Linked DNA regions of Homo sapiens: region 2 is linked to region 1. The links come from fine-mapping of genetic effects on gene expression. A gene starts in region 1. The other region holds a variant in brackets. All regions are shown on one strand. Distances are between the middles of the regions. Region 1 holds the start of BTF3 (basic transcription factor 3). Region 2 overlaps LINC01386 (long intergenic non-protein coding RNA 1386).

Region 1 (2,910 bases):
TCCAAAATGTACCCGTATCTTCAAATACCCTTGAAATATGCAACTACCCTAAAGAATATTTAGTTCAGAAAGCAGTACAGAAAGGTCTCAATTTACAAGAGAGACAAACAAGCACTGACTTTAGAAAACTCAGGCCAAAACAAGTCAAGGGTATGATGTGCACAACGATCTAACTGAAATGACACATTTTCCTTACTAATTAAATTAGGAAACACTTTTGTGTTCTACTTACACTCTGTAACACTGAAAACACAAACATGTTTACACAAAGGCGATGTTTTTAGCTCGTCTCACTGATGTGTCTCCAACCCTCGTCTCCCCCGCTCCTCGAGATTTGCTAGCTCCGTGAATTTCCCTCGATAGGCAAAGTTTGTCACCGATAATATAAGAAGCGCAAAAGGAATATGTTTTTTAAAATACCTAAACCTTAAAAAAAAAACCCACAAACCCGAACTATTAAAACTTACTTTCCCACCAATGCGCACTTGTGCCTGCAGTTTGGCGAGTTTTTCCTGGTTCATGATTGTTTCTTTCATCTAGAAAAAGAGGAAATCCTCAGCAAGGATAGGTTTAGCTCACTCTAGCATTCCATGCTCGTTATTTCCCAAGATACCAGCAGGAAAATAAACGTCCTACACAGGCCGAAACCTGGATCCCAAATCCACCCCGCAAAGCTCCAAATTTGGGTTTCCAGGGAGCCCAAAGAGCACCCGCCTCCCCACCACTCCCCCACAGCTCCCCGCTCTTGGCAGGCCCGGATGAAAGGCTCTACCCCACGCCTGGCCAGCACCCCCCACCCCTGGCCCTGGCCTGGCCTCGGCCTAGCCAGGGCCTGCCCGGCCCGGCCACTCTCCGCAAGCCTCGCGGTACCTGAGGCTCCTGTCCTCGGGTTCCGCCGCGAGGTGGAGGTTGAGACAGCGTCGCCTCGCCCCCAGGGCAGCCGCCCCTGGCTCGACCTCGCCCCCGAGAGTCAGCCTGAGCGGGTGCGCCTGTCCGTCGCATCGCCTTCCTCTCCTCCTCTGCCCTGTCCCTCCCTGTCTCGCTCCTTCAGGGAACTTCCCGCCCCCGCTCCCGTCCTCCTACCACGCCGCCGTCCAGAGCCTTTTTGTACCTTGTCGGAGCGAATAAGGGGCCGCGCGGGGGACTAGGGTTGGTGCTCAAGGGGTCTCGGGTGGACCACCTGAGATTAGGCGCACACACGCGGGGACGCAAGATGGCAGCTAAAGGGAGGCCGGAAGTGACACAAGGCCACTTCCTTCAAGAGTCAGGAAACTGACTTCGCCGCGAACTCGGTTCCTCCCTGCGCACGCGCGACAGCGTTTGTGATGGTCCAGCGAGTCCCTATTCTCCTCCTCCTGCTCCAGCGGCTGCCGGCTGTAGGCCCTACGAGAGACTGCTGGCTTGGGGCGCAGCCCGTACCTCTGGGAGAGGCCACAAAGGGGTCGGAGAGCGCGGTCCTGTGCACAGTTAGGGTTAAGTCCGCTCAGTCTCCATTGGGCCCTGATCCTGAAGTTCTGTGCCCTCCGAAGAAAGGGCCTATTCACGTTTCCTGGAGACGCCGGAGGTGCCCAGCTTGTGCTCACCACTCAAGCAGCTCTCCCCTTGCTGGAGGTGTGGGTTGGAGAATTGCAGAATTTCCCTCTCGGCCCGAATGAGCCATTACCAAAGCATTTTGTCAAAAATAGTGAAGTTAGTTTGGCCTTCCAAGGTTAGGTGGTGTGGTAGATTGCGGGACCGAGGTTCAGAATTTCTGGGGGCTGTATCCCCGAGCCCCACTCCTCAGAATGCAACTCTGTACGACGAAGGAACTGGGTAATCCGCATTTCAGCCAATTTAGCAGATGACTAACCACCTTAAAACGGTCCACACAATTATCTTGTTTATCAGGCAAAAAAATTGACTCCTAGGTACCGAATTGGCATGGATTTGACAATTAGCGATTCACGGTTAAGCAGACTTTATCTATCTTAATCCAATCAAAGGAGAATTTCTGCCTGCTGTGTTTGGAGAGACAACGCGTGGATGTGAGTTAAACTTTGTTAAACCCAGGACAAGCTTTAAGATAAAACGACTGATATTTAAAATGGCAATTTAAATAAAAATGTTCTCTGATCAGCCTTTTTGTGGTCTTAACCATGAAATGTCTTTGCATATTCAAAAGTGAGTCCGAAATCTTAGAATGCAATGTGTGTAGCAAGAAAACTTGTTCAAGTGCAGACCCCTCTCCAGTTAAGATCAATGTTTAAACTTTTTGAATACTTTTTACATATAAGTTTGTTGCAACTGATGTCTCAAGAACATAACTGGTGAGGACAGCTGTATTGCCTTTTAGAATAATTGTTACAGTTATATTTACAAAAAACAATGTTGCTTCAGTTAAATATGAGTGAAGTTTTAGTACAGGTAAGGGTGTTTGTAGTTAGGCTTATGTGGGTTACCTTCCTAATGACAAAGGCCAAAATGGCAGTACCAACATTATGCTGTGCTCTGGAGATATTACAAAATATATAGAAAGACTCCCCCTTTTGGAAGAAATGTGTATCTTTGTCCAGGAACAGTTTTTTTCCTCTCCTCCATGTTATATTGGAGGCATTTGAAACTTCCTAGTCACGTGATGTTTTCTGAGCTTTTATAGAGACAAGATTGTATGTATGTAACCTGCCACCTTTTTTTTCTTTTTCTTTGCCTTCCCTCTCCTCTGCCCTTTTAATACACCTGTTTTCAGGAAATATTGTGAGCTACTTTTATTTATTTATTTATTTCTACTTTTTGAAACCAGGGATGCTGCTAATTTTATTTTTATAATTTTTTTAAAAAATATAAAACTTTAAAAAAATTAAAAGAGATGGGGTCTCACTTTGTTGCTTAGGCTGGGCTCAAACTCCTGCGCTCAAAGGATCCTTCAGTCTC
Region 2 (2,910 bases), 37 kb after region 1:
CAGGGCCTGCAGAGTAACAAAACACTCAGCAGCCTGGTTGAGTACAATAATATCCAATGGCTCTTACAAAGGAGACTTAAACTGCTTGATAAAGGACCACACTGCATATTCCCATAAAACCAGTTTATTCTAATTCAATCCAGCCCTGATGAAGTGGCATCATTTGTCTGGGGTAATACCTGAGGTTTGTTGCCTTATGCCAAGGAAATCAAGGATGTGGACACACAAGGAGTGAGGTTAAGAGCAGAGGTTTAACAGGCAAAAGAAAGAGAAAAACTCTTGAGGAGGCAGTATCTGATTTACATAGGGCCCAAAAGATTGGTTGGACCAGGTGTGCCATTTACATAGCGGGCAAAGAAGCTGGCCACCCCACCGTAATCTATATTATTTGAATGGGTTCTCTACTTGGCCAGCGCCATGTTGCCTGCTTCTTTATTGCACATGTGGTTGACAAAGAAAAGAGAAGATGGAGTCTCCATGTTGAACATGCCTGGCCCCCAGGTAGCCTTTTCTTACTGGCACAGCTGCTGGCATTCACCCATGCAAGCTTTCAGCTTGCTTATCTATGTCTGCAGCTGCCCTTTGTTAGAAAATAAATGATTTGGGGACTGCTTTTTATTAAAAGGGAAATCTTGCCGAGGACTCTTTTACCCTCACTAACTGCCTAAATAATTTCATTCTAGCTCCTGTATCACTGGGTTAGGTTTTGAGAATGCTGAGGTGAAGATGACATGGAGCCTGCCTTCAAATAGATCACACTTTAGCAGAGGAGATAGGTAGGTGAGCAAGTATTAATGTAACTGCCCAAGAGGTTTACCTTGCCTGCTGCCTAGACAGAGCCAATTCCTTAAGACAGGGGAATTGCAATAGAAAAAGAGTAATTCACACAGAGCCAGCCGGCGGGGAGACCAGAGTTTTATTATTACTTAAATCAGTTTCCCCAAGCATTTGGGAAGCAGAGTTTTTAAGGATAACTTGGTGGGTGAGAGGAAGCCAGTGAGCCAGGAGTGCTGATTGGTCAGAGATGAATCATATGGAATTGGAGCTGTCTTCTTTTGCTCAGTCAGTTCCTAGGTGGAGGCCACAAGATCAGATGAGCCAGTTTATTGATCTGTGTGGGGCCAGCTGATCCATCAAGTGCAGGGTCTGCCAAATATCTCAAGCGCTGATCTTTGGAGCAGTTTAGGGAGGGTCAGAATCTTGTAGCCTTCGGCTGCATGACTCCTAAACCATAATTTCTAATCTTGTGGCTAATGTTAGTCCTACAAAGGCAATCCAGTCCCAGGTAAGAAGGAGGACTGCTTTGGGAAAGGGCTATTACCCTTACTAACTTCTCCCAAAGTTAGTTAAGCCTACACCTAGGAATGAACAAGGATAGCTTGGGGGTTAGAAGCAAGATGGAGTTGGTTAAGTTAGATTTCTTTCACTGTCTCAGTCATAATTTTGTAAAGGCGGTTTCATTAATATATTTCCACACTGGGTGCTGACTGCTGTGGAACGAGGTGCAGTCGGAATTCAGAGCAGGTGGAGGTGAGGTCATCAGGGAAGGCTTTCTGGAAGCAGACACTAGGGCTGAATTTTGGAAGGAAAATAAGTTGTTCAGTAGTCAAAGTATGCAAAGGGTGTTCCAGGCAAGGGCCCAGAGGAGGGAGGCAGTATGTCTAGCGTTGTGAGCT[A/G]TTGGTTGTTCAATATTGCAGGTAGGTAATCATGACGTGCAAAATAGTAGGAGATGCAATTGTAGAGTCAAGCAGAGGTGAGGCCCTTTTTATGCTAAGCTTCAGGAACTTGAATTTTAGCACACAGATTGGTAGTAATCAGACTTAAATGATCACCCAAATTACCTGGGGAACTTCCAAAAAAACCAAAAGCAACAACAACAACAAAACAAACAAAGCAAAATAAATTCCTGAGCCCCACCTGTAGAGATTCTAATTCAGTAGGTCTGTGGTGAGCCTGGCCTGGTGATGTGTGCATCCCAGCTGAGCAGCAGGACTTGGGGGAAGGCTGACCAGTGAAAAGAGGCTAGGGAAGTCGAAGCAGCAAGGGTGATAAATACTCCAAAGGCAATTGGAGATTAGTCTACTGGATTGTAGGATAACTGGGTCTCTTCAACTCACTTTTAAAAGGAATTTTTAGGGTTTAGAGAGGGCAAAAAGATATTGGCTTTTGTGTAATCTTTATTCAATGATTGATGTTACAGAAAATTTGCTGCAAGCACTGGGGCAATAAGATGTTACCAATACCTTTCTGGGTTTGGTGGGAGCCCCACCCAGGTTTAAAGTTTATTTTGCACAAGATTCATCTCAAGTAGTAACAATAATGGCAATAAATAAAGCATAATCATATTTATTGTTATAGCAAGTACTTATTAACATTTGTTTCTCCTAAAATTTGATAATAATACATGTTTAATCTACTTTGCACATAAAATAAAACTAACAGGCACGAATTCCTCTGAGTGAAGACAAGATTGGTCAAGGTTGAACTACAGCAACTAATAGCGAATGTCTACTACAAATAAGTAAATTAGCGAAGGATCTTAAAGTAGAGCAAATCCTTGGGCCAAAAATAATGATTTGCAGAAAGCACTGGTTTTTGAAGCACAGACTTGAATTGCCTTGGGAAAGAGTCAGTCATAGATTTTTCCAGGTGTCTTGTCTGGAACCAGACAGTTGGTATATGAGCTTTTTTGCTCACTGTAAAAATATAAAACACAGTCTGGGAGACATAGTGAGTCATTGTCTTTACAAAAAAAAAAAAAAAAAAAAACAAAGAAAAAGAAAAGAAAATGAGTCGAGTGTGATGGCACATTCCTGTAGTCCCACCTACTTTGAAGGCTGAAGTGGGAGGATTGCTTGAGCTCAGAAGTCTGAGGCTGCAGTGATCTATGATCATGCCACTGAACCCTAG

The links. PIP is the estimated chance that this variant, and not a neighbour inherited with it, causes the effect.
Region 2: its variant is the best candidate, but not a certain one, in a credible set for the expression of BTF3 in thyroid (GTEx, PIP 0.86).

The regions. Positions count from the first base shown.
Region 1 is chr5:73,496,760-73,499,669 of GRCh38, reverse strand. It overlaps BTF3 (basic transcription factor 3), which reads right to left and starts at 1,228. Exons shown (of 6, transcript NM_001037637.2): 1 at 871-1,228; 2 at 468-536. The coding sequence starts at 1,002. It overlaps BTF3-DT (BTF3 divergent transcript), which reads left to right and starts at 1,350. Exons shown (of 1, transcript NR_186388.1): 1 at 1,350-2,117. RefSeq lists a silencer at 744-793 and enhancers at 430-1,240, 1,004-1,303, 1,334-1,393.
Region 2 is chr5:73,459,399-73,462,308 of GRCh38, reverse strand. LINC01386 (long intergenic non-protein coding RNA 1386) reads left to right here. Exons shown (of 5, transcript NR_126410.1): 4 at 684-776. Among named protein-coding and RNA genes, the nearest start is that of FOXD1, 12 kb to the right of the region's middle. The variant A/G (reference allele first, on the strand shown) is at 1,677.